Linked DNA regions of Homo sapiens: regions 2 and 3 are each linked to region 1. Evidence: fine-mapped expression QTL. A gene starts in region 1. Each other region holds a variant in brackets. All regions are shown on one strand. Distances are between the middles of the regions. Region 1 holds the start of SELENOM (selenoprotein M). Region 2 has its middle 34 kb from the start of SMTN. Region 3 overlaps INPP5J (inositol polyphosphate-5-phosphatase J).

Region 1 (5,219 bases):
GGGAACAGCATTGCCTCCTTTGCTCAGAGCTTACTCTGTGCCCGGGAGGGGCCAGGGTCTCCGCTTATACGTGAGAAAATTAGGGTTCAAAGAAGTAAAGGGCCCTCCTCTCCATTCTGTGGCAGTCATCACTAGTCAATCTCTCTTGCCCACCCAACATGGAGACCACCTCAGAATCCTCTGGGAGCCACTACCAATCAATTCAACTTGTCAGTTGAAAACCATCTGCCACCCCTTTCTGAAGTTACGTGGAGATTCTCCCAGGTGCCCATCCCATTTCCCCTCCCCCAGAACAGAAGGATACTAGAATGGAATGTCCTGCGTGACGAAAGCCTTCACCTGGGGAGGAACCAGAGCATCAGAGACCATGACCTCAGTCTACTCGAGGTACAGACGAGACACTGAAGCCCAGTGAGGTCATAAAGCAAGTCAGGTGCAGGCTAGACTCTCAGCCTAGGCTAGACTCTCAGCCTAGGGATCCTTCCCCCCTCCCCGCCCCAGTCATTGGGACCATGTTGCCCACTCCCCAAGAGGCTCAGGGGGAACAGAGCTAGGGACCTCTTCCTTCAAACTCACCTCCTTTAGGCGGTTCAGCTGTCATCCCCCGCAGGTCTGGAGGGGGATAAAATGGGATAGGTCAGGAGTCCTTCACGTTTATTCCAGTCACATCCCCAAAGCCATACTTCCTTATCCCTGAGTTGGGTCGGGCTGTGAGTTATCCCCGGATCAGCAGTTCCCAAGGTCTGAAGGAAATGCTGGACCCTTGTGGGCAGAAGGGGGAACTGTGTATACAGGTGGGGAGACTCAGGCCTAGAGACACCAGGGGAAAAGAGCAAGGCCAGAGACCCACAGTGTGCCTGCCAGCCTTGGGGCCTGTACATCCTACTGGCTGTGGACTGACTCCCAATGCCCAGGGGAAATGATCACCCTGCTCCTCTTAAGCAGTAGAGACCTGGGCTTGGCCTTTGATCCCTGAAATCTCACAGTGGAGGCAGAGCAGAAGGAAACACCTCAGAATGGCCCTGGGGGCCCCCATTGGAGACACCTACCATCTGGTCCCTACTCTACACAGGCAGACCTCACCCTGCCTGCCACCTGCGGCCCAGCCCCACAGACCATGTGGTTGCTTCCCTGACATGGGAGGATGGGAGGGCTCCTCCCTGCCTTCCCTGAGGAGATGCCACCATCCAGCAGGAGTCTAGACCCCAGGACCACCCACTCCAGCCCTCCTCCATCCTACCCTCAGCCCTTTTCTTAGAGACAGGGTCTCACTATGTCCCCCAAGCTGGTCTTGAACTCCTGGGCTCAAGCAATCCTCCTGCCTTGGCCTCCCAAAGTGCTGGGATTACAGGCGTGCACCACCGGCACCCAACCATTCTACACCCTTTTGTCAGACAGAGCTGACAAAAAGCTCAGAGGCGGGCTGTGATGGTCAAAGTCACATAGCAAGACAGGGACTCCGAACGGGAATTTCCTGGTTGGGGGAGGATGGGAGGCTGCTGCAGAGTAAATGTTGGCAACCAAGTTCCCAACTCGGTTGCCCCTCCGAGTTGGCCCCCTTCCCCGGATCCTGCATATGGGAGGAGGCACCCAGAAAGTCTTCTTTCCCCCCAGGAGAAGGAAAAGAGACTTTCTGGAGCCTCCAGCCCTGGAACCGGGTCGGGGGGGAATTCCAGGAAAACATGAAGTGATGGGGGATGGGAAGTTGGGACAGGATTGGGAGTCATAGGCCACGAGAAGAGTTAGGAGACTGCGTCAGTGTGTCTGGGTGTCCGCTGTCGGACCGGGTAGGGGGAGCTGGGGAAGGGTTCGGAGTTCCAGGCCCCAAAGTCGGTGTCTCAGGCTTCCACGGTGGATGCTGGGGCCATCTGGGGCTAGGGAACAGGAGGGATGGTCCCGGCGCCAGGGGGAAAGCAGGGAGACTCGCGGTTCGAGGTGGTCTTGGGGCCGGGACGGACGGTGCTCCCATGGGGCCGCAGGGTTGGGGAACGATAGTGCCGGGGCTGGAGGCCGGCGTACTCACCTCTACCCGGGCGCGGGTTAGGCCGCTCAGACGGTTCCAGTCCGGCCGGTAGGCAGTGGCGGCTGTGGCTGGGGCCACAAGCGCCGCGAGAAGCAGCAGCAGCGCCAGCGGAGGCAACAGGAGGCTCATCGGGACCCGGCCGCAGATGATGCGCAAGCTGGAGGCGAACCTCCGAGTCGCTGCGCCACGTCTGGGCCCCCAGGCTGGCCCCGCCCCCGCCCCCGCCCCCACTCCCGCTAGAGGCCCAGTCCCGCTGGAGACCACGCCCCCAGCGCTCGGTCTCCGCCCCAGGACTCCCCGCCGTTACCTCCCGCTAGCTCAGGGCGAGGTCCTGGCTCCTCCCTGGCGTTTGGGCCGTCACTTTCCCAGGTCCGAGAGTGTCGACGCTCCTTTTGTCGACCGAGGATGTGGACGCTCCCCCAGGATGCGGCCAGGCAGCGCCACCTCACGCCGGCAGAGGGTGCCGGCGAGACGCTGAGGGACACTGGAGTTTCTGAGCCGAACCTGCGACTTTAAGATAGGGAAACTGGTAGGACATCCAAGAAAAAAAAAGGAAAGAAAGAAAGAAGAATAAATAAGGGAAACTGGCTTTCTGAGGACTCCTCGCTTTGGAGCGTGGGAGATGAGGAGTGAGGTTCGGTGGAGGGGGTGCGGCTTCTGGGAGCCACTGAGACCTACCAGCGTGTCTTCTTACCATCCACAGCTACTGCTGAGCAGACTTTCTGACCTGGGGTGAGGAAAGGAATTTGCTATTCAAAGGTGGGAAAATGCAAGGAGGGTTACAGCTGATAGGCCACAACAGGGTCTTAAATCAGCTGGGTTAAATTTATGGAGTCAGGATTTACTTTTTTTTTTAATGTGGCTATCCAATTCAATTAAAAATCTTGTCTTTTTCATTGCTACTCTGCCGCGTTACCTCTGTTATATATAAATAGGCAACCACGGCCGGGCGTGGTGGCTCACACCTGTAATCCCAGCACTTTGGGAGGCCGAGGTGGGTAGATCACTTGAGGTCAGAAGTTCGAGGCCAGCCTGGCCAACATGGTGAAACCCCATCGCTACTAAAAATACAAAAATTAGCTGGGCGTGGTGTGGGCGCCTGTAATCCTAGCTACTTGGGAGGCTGAGGCAGGAGAATCACTTCAACCTGGGAGGCAGAGTTTGCAATGAGCCGACATCCTACCACTGCACTCCAGCCTGGGCGACAGAGACTGTCTCAAAAATAAATAAATAAATAAATAGGTAACCATATAAATATATGGGAGTCTACTTCTGAATATCATACCCTATTCTAGTCCTTCAGTGGGTTTGTCTAACTACGCTGTCTTATTAACTATAGCTTTATAGTCAGACTTGACATCTGGTTGTGTGTTGGTCCTCTAGCTTTGTTCTTTCTTTCTTTCTTTTTTTTTTTGAGACGGAGTCTCGCTCTGTTGCCCAGGCTGGAGTTCAGTGGCCTGATCTCGGCTCACTGCAACCTCCGCCTCCCGGGTTCAAGCAATTCTCCTGCCTCAGCCTCCCGAGTAGCTGGGACTACAGGCACGCGCCACCACGCCCAGCTAATTTTTTTGTATTTTTAGTAGAGATGGGGTTTCACTGTGTTAGCCAGGATGTTCTTGATCTCCTGATCTCATGATCCGCCCGTCTCAGCCTCCCAAAGTGCTGGGATAACAGGTGTGAGCCACTGCGCCTGGCCCATTTTTTTTTGTTTTTTTGTTTGTTTGTTTTTTTGAGACAGAGTCTTGCTCTGTCAGCCAGGCTGGAGTGCAGTGGCACGATCTCAGCTCACTGCAACCTCCACCTCCCAGGTTCAAGCGATTCTTCTGCCTCAGCCTCCCAAGTAGCTGGGATTACAGGTGCCCACCACCACGCCCAGCTAATTTTGTATTTTTAGTAAATATGGGGGTTTCATCATCTTGGCCAGGCTGGTCTCGAACTCCTAACCTCAAGTCATCCACCCGCCTTGGCCTCCCAAAGTCCTGGGATTACAGGTGTGAGCTGCTGGGCTGGCTATTTTTTTTTTTTTTTTGAGACAGAGTCTTGCTCTGTTGCCCAGGCTGGAGTGCAGTGGCTCAATCACAGCCTGAACCTCCCAGGCTCAAGCAATCCTCCCACCTCAGCCTCCTGAGTAGCTGGGACTACAGGCATGCACCATCATGCCCAGCTGATTTTTTTTTTTTTTTTTTGAGACGGAGTTTCACTCTCATTGTCCAGGCTGGACACTCTCATGTCCAGTGGCATGATCCGGACTCACTGCAACCTCTGCCTCCCAGGTTCAAGCGATTCTCTTGCCTCAGCCTCCTAAGTAGCTGGGATTACAGGCGTCGGCCACCACACCCGGCTAATTTTTTGTCTTTTTAGTAGAGACGAGGTTTCACCATGTTGACCAAGCTGGTCGCAAACTCCTGGGCTCAAGTGATCCTCCTGCCTTGGCCTCCCAAAGTACTGGGATTACAGGCATGAGCGACCATGCCTGGCCTGTGGCCTACATTTTCCTGTGGTGAGGGCCATGTGTGATCCCACAGCCTCAGTAAGCCATCGCAGTCTAGCTTTGTTCTTCTTGAAGGTTGTCTTGACTATACTTGGCCTTTCACACTTCCAGGTACAATTTAGGGCCAGCTCGTCAACCTCCACAGAAAAACCTTCCAAATTTCTATCAGGATTTCAGATTCCCACTGGGGAAATCAATGTGGGGAGACTCTACAGCTTTACATTATTGTGACTTTTCTTCCACGAACATAGTAAGTCCCTCCATTTCTATAGGTCTTCTTTAATTTCCTTCAATAATATTTTGTGGTTTTTAGAATAAATATCTTGCATATCTTTCATTAGATTTACTCCTAGGTATTTAATTTTTTATAGCATTACAAACTCTATTGTTTTTACATATTCATTTTCAAGTTGCTTGGTAGTAGCATATAGGAAGACAATTGATTTTTGTATATTAACCTTGCAGCCAGTGACCTTACTGAATTTTCTTACTCTAATAGTTTAACTGGATATTTTTTTTTATTTTCTACATATGCATATTATATCATCTGGAAATAAAAGTGGTTTTCTTCCTTTCTGGTCCTTATACCTTGGTTTTGTTTCGTTGCACTGTCTTAATTTTACGGTCTGGGGCCTCTGGTACAATGTTGACTGGAACTGATAATTGTCTTTTTCCAGATATCATCTTTAAACGATCATGTTTGCT
Region 2 (5,219 bases), 61 kb before region 1:
GTGAAAATGGCAGATGGCCAGGCCCCGACTCCAACTTACGGTGAATCAGACTCTTCTAGGATGGGGTTTGGATACTCTGATGTAGCTAGAGAACTGGAGTTCAGGAATCAGTGACATTCAGGCACTTCAAACAGGCTTTGCAAATCATTATTATTTTATAATTATTATTATTTTTGAGACGGAGTCTTGCTCTGTCCCCCAGGCTGGAGTGAGGGGCACAATCTCGGCTCACTGCAACCTCCACCTCCCAGGTTCAAGTGATTCTCCTACCTCAGCCTCCCAAGTAGCTGGGACTACAGGGACACACCACCACGCCCAGCCAATTTTTGTATTTTTAGTAGAGACAGGGTTTCACTGTGTTGCCCAGGCTGGTCTTGAACTCCTGAACTCAGGTGATCCACCTGCCTCGACCTCCCAAAGTACTAAGATTACAGGTGTAAGCCACCGTGCGTGGCAGCCGGTTTTTTTTTTTGAAACAGGGTCTCGCTTTGTCACCCAGGCTGGAGTGCAGTGGCTCAATCACACCTCTTTACAGCCTCAACCTCCCAGGCTCAAGTGGTCATCCTGCCTCAGTCTCCCCAGTAGTTAGGACTACAGGCACGCACCACCATGCCTGGCTAATTTTTTTTTTTTTTAATTAGCGACTCCATCTCACTATGTTCTCCAGGCTGATCTTGAACTCCTGAGCTCAAGCGATCCTCCCGCCTCAGCCTCCCAAAATGTTAGGATTACAGGCATGAGTCACCACACCCAGCACCAAAATCATTATTTTGATTAGACTCTGTTCCCTATAGATGGAAATCCAGGCTTCATAGCCTGGCATTCGGGACGTCACAGCAACCTCTTAAACAGAGCCATAAACTTCATACACTACCTGACCATCCCTCATCCCTCAGTTCCTTCAACAAGCACATGGAGAGTGCCCTCTCTGCAGCCCCAGATAAAATCGGGTCTCTGCCCTCCCTGGGGGTTCTAAGTGGGAATAAATTAAATTCCACACCCCAAGGTTCTCTTGTTTTTCCAAACACTTTCTTGCTCACACCTCTGAACCCTACTTTAATGGGGGGAAACCCACCAACAATCTCCTCCCACCTAAAGCTTTCCTGGTTCTCTGCACCCCCGGCTGAATCCCCATTTACCATGGGGTCTACCCTTCTCATGAATGAATGAGTGAGTGAGTGAATGAACGAATCCCAACTAATTTGCCTCTGATCCCTAGCACTGTTTGTGGCCAATAATGTTTGTTGAAATACAATGGAATATGGATTTTCTAAGCCAGTTTTCATCTGAATGCAACAACCACTGAGAAACATTGCCAGTCAACCAACATTTATTGAGTAGCTACTACGTGCCTGGCACGTGGAAACAAAGCAGATCATTCCAGATATAGTAAGAGTTACAAGTGCTATGGGAGGGAGAGAGACTGAGAGGTGCTATTTCATATGGAATGGTCAGGGAAGCCCCTTGGAGGAGGTGGCATTTGAGCTGGAGACTTGAAGACTGAGACAGGCAGCCTGCAGAGCCCTAGAATGGTGACTTGATGTGGGTTTGAGCAGAGCTTTCTGACTTCTGGGTGGTGAATGGAGGTGGGGTGGGGGCAGTGGCCGGAGCCAAGTGACATGATGAACAGTGGTGTGGAGAAGTGGGGCCCAGCCACATGAAGAAAGACACCACAGGGGGGCTCTGCTGCTAGGGTGGGATCACTGGCCTTCTTCCAAGCTTTAGGCTATTTGATTCTCTGAGCTTTATCTGTGTTTTAAACACACACACAGAAGCAAGTAAAGAAAACAACCCCCCCTCCCCCGGCCCCAGAGCCTCAGAAGTTGGCTAAAGCCCACAGGGTTGTTTGTTTGTTTTGTAAAAAATATGTTTTCCACTGAATCTTCAGTTTTTTGTTTCAGCAGCTGGCATCCACCCAAGGGAACAAGTTAGCTGGGACAAACAGGGCTTCCGTCCCTCTGTCATTGTCCTCTGGATCACAGCTCGTGGCTGCTAAGAGGGTCATTTCCTGTGGCCGAGAGGCAGGGCTGAGAAGGTGAAGTGTGGGGGCCAGGCCTTCCCACGGATGCAGCTGGGTCAGCTGCATTTCCCCAGAGGACACTGCTCCAGGGGAGGGGGTGGGGCAGGAGAAAGGCAGCCCCTGAGGTCAGGCTTGCAGCTCTGGCCCAGCAGTTCAATATTAAATCAGTTACTTGAGGTTTCACAACACCAAGGAGCAAGGCTCCCAGGCTAGTCCTCAAGAAGAGCCTATTGCACTGATGTTGGAAAGTCATTTGTTTTGTTTGTTTGTTTGTTTGTTTGTTTTGAGACAGAGTCTCCCTCTGTCGCCCAAGCTGGAGTACAGTTGCACGATCTCGGCTCGCTGTGTGATCACTTGAACCCCCTCTGCCTCCCGTTTCATGCGATTCTCATAGCCTTAGCCTCCCAAGTAGCTGGAATTACAGGTTTGCACTACCATGCCCAGCTAAATTTTTGTACTTTTAGTAGAGACAGGGTTTCGCCATGTTGGCCAGGC[C/T]GATCCTGAACTCCCAGTTTAGGTGATCTCCCCGTCTCGGCCTCCCAAAGTGCTGGGATTACAGGTGTGAGCCACAGCACCTGACCTGGAAAGTCATTTGTGTAGGATGAGAGGTACCCAGCCCATACACAAGATGGTCGGGGCACATGATTTGAAAACCCATCAAATTCAGGCCACATGACCTGAGAATGAGGTGAGACTGAGCTGTGTCTGGAAGACAGAAAAGCCCTTCTGCCACTATAGACCAGAGCAGGGGGCTCCAGGCATGGGAACCACTGAATTCCATGTCTCTGCAAGCCACATGTATGCCCAAATTCTGTTGAATTTCTAGGCTCAGCCCCTCCTGGTTATAATCTGGTTTCTCAAACTGGCTCTCTGTCCCCAGAAAGAGGAAGAAGGGTGCCAGGGCAGTGTCCAGCCCATATCCATCTAACTCCTCACACACTGATATGGTTTGGCTGTGTCCCCGCCCAAATCTCAACTTGAATTGTATCTCCCAGAATTCCCATGTGTTGTGGGAGGGACCCAGGGGGAGGTAATTGAATCATGGGGGCCGGTCTTTCCCATGCTATTCTCGTGATAGTGAATAAGTCTCATGAGATCTGATGGGTTTATCAGGGGTTTCTGCTTTTGCTTCTTCCTCATCCCTCTTGCCGCCACCATGTATGAAGTGCCTTTTGCCTTCCGCCATGATTGTGAGGCCTCCCCAGCCATGTGGAACTGTAAGTCCAATTAAACCTCTTTTTATTCCCAGTCTTGGTATGTCTTTATCAGCAGCGTGAAAACAGACTAATACACACACCTATGAGTTTTACATCAAGATCATGTGCCTTCCTCTCAGGCCATTCAGCTTTGTTCATAACCTCCAGTCACCATGGCCCACTTCAGACTCCTCCTTCCTGCTTCAGGGCCTTTGCCCATGACTTCCTCTGCTGGATCTCAAGTCAAAGTGCTCAAGACACCCTAAACTTTTCCTCTCAGAGCTAACTCCCAACTGACAATAGTGATTTGTGTAGTCATTCACATGATGTTTTCTTCCTCCAAAGCACCATTGAAGACATTCCAAAAAGCGAGACAGGCACAGTGGCTCACACTTATAATCACAGCTATTTGGAAGGCCAAGGCAGGAGGATTGCTGGAGCACAGGAGTTCGAGACCAGCCTAAGAAACATAGTGGGACCTTGTCTCTACAAAAAAAATAAAGAATAAAAAAATTAGCCAGGTGTGGTGGTGTATACCTGTTGTCCTAGCTACTCAAGAGGCTGAGGCTGGAGGATTGCTTGAACCTGGGATGATCACTTGAGCCCAGGAGGTGAAGGCTGCAGTGAGCCATGATCACGCCACTGCACTCCAGCCTGGGTAACAGAGTGGGACCCTGTCTCCAAAAAAGTTAAAAAGAGAGAAAAAGCGAAAGGAAGTGAGTGGTTGGTATTTATGGACCAAGTCTGAAAACAGCACATGTCCCTTCTGCTCACATTTCATTGGCTGGAATCAGTCACATGGCTCCCCTAACAGCAAGGGAGGCTGGGAAATGTGGTCTAGTACAGTGTTGAAGAGGACGATGTGGACCACAGTGGGGTAAGGTGATTCCTCAAAATGAGAAGAAAGGGGTGATGGGGGCCTGAACAGGCAAAAGGCCCACTATGCACTCCACACGGCCTCCATAACCCCACCCAGGGAGGGGAAGGCATGTCTCCTGGGCCTCCTTCTGCCTTTTCCTGTGGATGGAAAACTCATTAGTGGTCAGCCTCTGGAGCAGATACCGCCCAGAGGCCCCTGATGATACCTCTACCCATCAAAGGCTTCTTACTGTGAATGTAACTGCTTGACTGTGTTGTTCTGACCTCAGGAGCACACTTGGGCCTGTCCTCTGGCAAGCGGGAAGGCTGAGTTCCAGAAGCATCCCTCAACCAGTGAAGAATGAGAAGTTGGTGGCTAGATACTCCAGCTGCCTCTTGCTCCTTGGTTGGGATGACTGTCTCTGAGCTTTCCCTAGTGGGGTTGAACTCCAGTTGCCTATCGAAGTGTGCTTTCAATTCATTTATTGAATTTATTGGCTGCTTTCCTTTCCCCATCTCACCTCCCCACTCCCCTGCAGGGGATTCCCTGGGATCACCTCCCAGACAGATTACTTGAACTTAAATACTTCTCTTAAGACCTGCTTCTGGGAGGACCCAAACAAAGGCAGCTCCACAAGGGCAGGGACAAGGGACGGTGATGTGGACTCTTCTCCCCTACCTCCTGTCTTGTGCTTCATGCACATGCAATCGTTCTTTTTTTTTTTTTTTTTTTTTTGAGACAGGGTCTCGCTCTGTTGTCCAGGCTGGAGTGCAGTGGTGTGATCTCGGCTCACTGAAGCCTCAACTTCCTGGGCTAAAGCAATCCTCCCATCTCGGCCTTTCAAGTACCTGGGACTACAGGCGTGTGCCACCATACCTGGCTAATTTTTTGTAGAGATGGGGTCTCACTGTGTTGCCCACACTGGTCTCAAACTCCTGGGCTCAAGCGATCAGCCCACCTTGGCCTTCCAAAATACTGAGGTCACAGGTGAGAGCCACTGTGCCTTGCCAATCATTCTTTTTATTACTGTTTATAAACACACAAAATACATGTCGATGGGTTGGTCATCTTGGCTAGAACTGCTGCAGACTTACCAGGGAGAGGACCTCACGCACTTGGGGAAAAAAAGCCTTGGGGGATTTAT
Region 3 (5,202 bases), 27 kb after region 1:
GATCTGGTGTTGGCAACAACTCAGTCCTTCCCTGAGGGACAGAGGTGGGGTCAATATCCTGGCAGCCTGCCACCTCAGCAGCTCCACCCATTCAGGTGGCGCCCCTGGTGGGTCTGGGTTGACCTTGGGGAAAGGATACTCGTGGTTATAACTTTCCTTCATGGACTGATGACAAGGTAATAGTTAGTAACCGCTTAGTACTTAGACTCAGTTGGAGAAACTGAACCTTGGGATGGTTAGAGCCTGCCCTGGGGTAACATAGCGAGTTAGCAGTAGAGCCTGGAAGTGGACTGAGGTCTCCATCCTCCCACGCAGAGCTCTTCTTGCCTGCTCAGGAATATTCAGCTTACCCCAAATACCCAGTGCATCATAGGATTTTATTGGTCTTCCTTGCTAGCATAGAGACAAATCATTTATTGAGCACTTACTGGTATACTGGGAAATTTATGGGATGCTTTGCAAATGGTGTCTCACTGAATCTGCTGAACAACTCCAAGAGTAAAATAAGAGTCTCTGAGTTTGGCCGGGCACGGTGGCTCATGCCTATAATCCCAGCACTTTGGGAGGCTGAGGTGGGTGGATCATTTGAGGTCAGGAGTTCAAGAACAGCCTGGCCAACATGGTGAAACGCTGCCTCTACTAAAAATACAAAAATTAGCCAGGCGTGATGGCGGTACCTGTGGTCTCAGCTACTGGGGAGGCTGAGACAGGAGAATCACTTGAACCCGGGAGGTGGAGGTTGCAGTGAGCCGAGATTGCACCACTGCACTCCAGCCTGGGTGACAGAGCGAGACTCCATCTCAGAAAAAGAAAAAAAAAAAAAAGAGTCTCTGAGTTTACAGATGAGGGCCCTGGCATTCAGAGAGGCTGAGGAACTCACCCAGCCTGTCAACGGCAGAACCAGAGCCAAATCCAGGATTTGCTAGCTTCAAAGCTATGTTCTCACTCACTCCCTAAGGAGGCTGTGGGCAGAAGGAACCCTGGGCTGGGAGGCAGCACAGGGCTTGGTATTTATACTAGACCTGTTCTGCCTCAGTTTCCCAGTCTGTAAAGTGGCCCTTTGTCTCAGGCAATTTGTGCTAAGACCCAAGAGCCTTAAGTGTGTGGGATACTAGAGGGTCTCCCCTGATGTGGCCCCCTGCCCCTGCCTTGCCTGGACAGTTTGCCTTCAGGGACGACATGCCACTGGTGCGGCTGGAGGTGGCAGATGAGTGGGTGCGGCCCGAGCAGGCGGTGGTGAGGTACCGCATGGAAACAGTGTTCGCCCGCAGCTCCTGGGACTGGATCGGCTTATACCGGGTGAGAGGGGCAGTGGTGGTCAGCGACTCAGGGAAGAAAGGGGCCTGGAGGAGCAGCTGAACAGCATGGTGGGGTCACTGGCTTGTCCAGATCTTGATGCCACACTGGGAGACTGCTGGGATCAGACATTATAGGGTCACAACACTGATTCCACAACACTGATCCCCCAGGTGGGTTTCCGCCATTGCAAGGACTATGTGGCTTATGTCTGGGCCAAACATGAAGATGTGGATGGGAATACCTACCAGGTACTTAAAAGGAGTGGGAGAGTCAGGGCAAGTCCTTGTTGCCTTTGGGACCTCAGAACTCACCTTGGGGGCTCTCAGGTGGCCTCCCTGACCCCCAACTTAGGCTTATACCCCTGGGCCTACCAGGTAACATTCAGTGAGGAATCACTGCCCAAGGGCCATGGAGACTTCATCCTGGGCTACTATAGTCACAACCACAGCATCCTCATCGGCATCACTGAACCCTTCCAGGTAAGTAGGCCAGACTGCTGGGCTGGGGGTGCCTAAAGACTTTTGTCAAATGCCACAGCCTCTACATTCTGCTCCTTGAGTTCAGACAAATAACCTGACCTCCCAAGATCTGCCAACGAGAGAGGCAGACCTCGGGAGGTCAGGCCTCAGTGGCTGGGTTGGGGAGCAGGGCGCCCCAGTGACCAGCATTTCCCCCAGATCTCGCTGCCTTCCTCGGAGTTGGCCAGCAGCAGCACAGACAGCTCAGGCACCAGCTCAGAGGGAGAGGATGACAGCACACTGGAGCTCCTTGCACCCAAGTCCCGCAGCCCCAGTCCTGGCAAGTCCAAGCGACACCGCAGCCGCAGCCCGGGACTGGCCAGGTTCCCTGGGCTTGCCCTACGGCCCTCATCCCGTGAACGCCGTGGTGCCAGCCGTAGCCCCTCACCCCAGAGCCGCCGCCTGTCCCGAGTGGCTCCTGACAGGAGCAGTAATGGCAGCAGCCGGGGCAGTAGTGAAGAGGGGCCCTCTGGGTTGCCTGGCCCCTGGGCCTTCCCACCAGCTGTGCCTCGAAGCCTGGGCCTGTTGCCCGCCTTGCGCCTAGAGACTGTAGACCCTGGTGGTGGTGGCTCCTGGGGACCTGATCGGGAGGCCCTGGCGCCCAACAGCCTGTCTCCTAGTCCCCAGGGCCATCGGGGGCTGGAGGAAGGGGGCCTGGGGCCCTGAGGGTGGGGTAGGCAGATGGGCCAAGGTGACCACCATTCTGCCTCAATCTTTTGCAAGCCCACCTGCCTCTCTCCTGCTGCTCCTCCAGCTGTATCTGCACCTGCCTCTCTGTCCTGGCCAGGGGTGGACAACTGGGGTCCCCCAAAACTCAGTCCTGGCACCTCAACTGTGACAATCAGCAAAGCCCCACCCAGGCCCCCATCTGGGATGATGGGAGAGCTCTGGCAGATGTCCCAATCCTGGAGGTCATCCATTAGGAATTAAATTCTCCAGCCTCACTCTCGGCTCTTTCCTACTTGTTAGTAGTCTTGGGATGGTGGTAGTCAGAGGCAGGGACTGAAGAGGTGAGGGAATGACAGAACCGACATTTACCAGGCACCAGCTGTATACATTACACATGCCATCTCCTTTAATCTGCATCACAACCCTGTGAGATCAGTGCTATTCTTAGACCCATTTCACAGGTGAGCGAACTGAGGCCTTTAAAAGGTTACATCAACCTCTCAAGATCAGACACCAAACCATAGTTCAGCTAGGTGTCGCAGGGGGGA[A/G]TACTTATTAAGTGCTAAGCACTGTATATGTATTGGTTCACTTAATCCTCAACAACCCTATGAGGTAGCTCCTGTTTAGAGACCCCCTTTTTTTAGAGGAGGAAACTAAGGCTTAGAGTGCAAGAGGGAGGTCCTTTGCGCAAAGGCATGGAGGAGATTTGAATTTAGGTTTAGGGCTGGGCCAGGAAGGGCACGGCAGCCGTTAAAAAAAGAGGCCCCCCTGGGAGGAGGGGAGCTGAAAGCCCTCTCCAACACCCACCCCAATCCTGGATTCAGACACAGACATTTCTGTGACATCCCTAACTTCCCACCTGCTACCTCAGGCCACAGCACCCAGGCACTAGGGCTCCCCTAGGCAGGTTTTTGAGGCATGTATTATTTTTGCAACACGGACATACATGTACCTCCTCCTGGTACTGCCTGGGGCTGCTGCAATAAGTTACCCTTTCCCCATTCTCATCTGTATGTGAAGTTCCCTGGCAAGGCCAAAGCCCAGGGCATCAGAATGAGCTTCCTGAACACCACATCCAGGCATAGAAGAGTTGTGTCATACATAGCTCAAGGTTACCCAGAACAGCAGGAGATGTGGTCCAGCATTTGGGCCTTGAGATCCCCCCATTCATCCTCTTGATTGTCCACAACAGCCTCTGCCATGCTTCAGTCTAACCTACGGAGGGGAGGCTGAGATTCCCAAGGCTTGGCATAGCCATGGGCAAGGTCCAGGCTGGTGCCCAGGAAAGCTGAAACTGAGGTCACTGGCTCCAGGACTTCTGCTGCCTGTCGGGTCTCCTGGCTGCCTGGGTTAGCTGCAGGCACTGGTTGTAGAATGACATGGGGCCTCTCAGGGGCTCTGAAGGCCATGGCTGCCTCTCATCTGTGCCTTTATCCTGGAGCTGGTGTCGCCTCTGCTGAAGCCTCCGCAAGTGCCGGGCTGACACCCTGATGGCCCTAGGGTCTCTGGAACAGCTGTAAGGAGAGAAGAGTGGGGCAGATGATCAGGGCTGACAAGGATCCCACCTTACTCTGCAGACAGTGGGCTGAGGCCCAGAGAGAGAGGGGGCTGGGGCCACAGTCACCAGCAAGGCAGAGAGGGGTGGGTTTCACGGAGAAAGGGTATAATAAACCGGGCTGGTACCTGGAGGCCTGGGTTCTGCCACTAGCTGGCTGTGGAAACCTGAGCCAGAAGCCTCAGCCTCATCTATGAAATGGGAAAGTTAAGAAGGAGCTGGCTTTGAGAATCGGAATCCAGATGAAAGCAGAGCACAGTGGCTCACGCCTGTAATCCCAGCACTTTAGGAGGCCGAGGTGGGAGGATCGCTCGAGTCCAGAAGTTCAAGACCAAATGAGATTGTGGATTAGGAGTGAGTTAAGTACACATTTTGCTGTGTGCCAGGCGGGGCATGACCTATGTGCATCCTGCCGTTTCCTTGGTTCCTACGACCATTTTACAGACAAAGACATGGAAACTTGGAAAGGTGAACCAGTTGCCAAGGTCATGTGGGAATCAAATGACAAAGCCAAGATGCGACCCATAGAGGCCAACTGCAGAGCTGGACCTGGGGCAGCAGGGGGTAGAGGGATGAGGCTATGGATAGGAGCTCAGAGGTCTCCGGATCCCTTCCCCTACCCCTTGGCCCAAGCATTCAAAGTGGGTATAGGCAACCCACCCTTTGAGAAAACCCCCCATCCCTCCTGGCTCTGACATCACTTACTTTTTGCCTTCCACACAGTCCAGTGGAGGGGCCAGCTTGAAGCAGGTTGTGCCCAGCAGCTCCCAAAGCATGTTGGTAACCTCGGGTGGGCTGTGGAGCCTCAGGAAGCGTGCCAGACTGAGAACAGAGGCAGGCTCAGGCCGGGGCAGGGCCTTGCCAGCCAGGGGCCCCTTCCCATGCCTGGCAGCAGGCAGCCCACCCCGCGAGGGTTCAAAGGGGCCTCACCGGCGCGTGCAGTTGCAGTGGAAGAGGGGCTCTTGGGCGCTGTTGAGCAGCTGGAACTCGATTTCCCGGGGCCCAATCTGGTGCTCACACTGGTCCAGGTGGCGGCGGAAGCTGCGGCAGACCCAGCGGGCACCTGAGGGGTGGATGTGGTGTTGATGGGAGCCCAATCCACCAGGGAGGCCCCACCAATGCCTGCGCCATCCGGGAGAAACACCAGCACGTGTGCTCAGT

Evidence for each region. PIP is the estimated chance that this variant, and not a neighbour inherited with it, causes the effect. A credible set is the group of variants that fine-mapping cannot tell apart.
Region 2: its variant is the best candidate, but not a certain one, in a credible set for the expression of SELENOM in whole blood (INTERVAL, PIP 0.87).
Region 3: its variant is the best candidate, but not a certain one, in a credible set for the expression of SELENOM in nucleus accumbens (GTEx, PIP 0.82).

Annotation. Positions count from the first base shown.
Region 1 is chr22:31,105,354-31,110,572 of GRCh38, forward strand. SELENOM (selenoprotein M) reads right to left here and starts at 2,215. Exons shown (of 5, transcript NM_080430.4): 1 at 2,024-2,215; 2 at 577-612; 3 at 305-339. The coding sequence starts at 2,152. It overlaps LOC105372995 (a long non-coding RNA gene), which reads right to left. Exons shown (of 3, transcript XR_938163.3): 2 at 2,718-2,750; 3 at 2,283-2,533. It overlaps LOC124905100 (a long non-coding RNA gene), which reads left to right and starts at 2,529. Exons shown (of 2, transcript XR_007068063.1): 1 at 2,529-2,755; 2 at 4,626-5,099. RefSeq lists an enhancer at 899-1,671.
Region 2 is chr22:31,044,750-31,049,968 of GRCh38, forward strand. No RefSeq gene overlaps it. Among named protein-coding and RNA genes, the nearest start is that of SMTN, 34 kb to the right of the region's middle. RefSeq lists an enhancer at 1-337. The variant C/T (reference allele first, on the strand shown) is at 2,516.
Region 3 is chr22:31,131,937-31,137,138 of GRCh38, forward strand. INPP5J (inositol polyphosphate-5-phosphatase J) reads left to right here. Exons shown (of 13, transcript NM_001284285.2): 10 at 1,162-1,299; 11 at 1,470-1,547; 12 at 1,674-1,778; 13 at 1,977-2,761. The coding sequence ends at 2,483. PLA2G3 (phospholipase A2 group III) reads right to left here. Exons shown (of 7, transcript NM_015715.5): 5 at 4,972-5,104; 6 at 4,747-4,863; 7 at 2,871-4,000. The coding sequence ends at 3,787. Among named protein-coding and RNA genes, the nearest start is that of PLA2G3, 6.0 kb to the right of the region's middle. The variant A/G (reference allele first, on the strand shown) is at 3,035.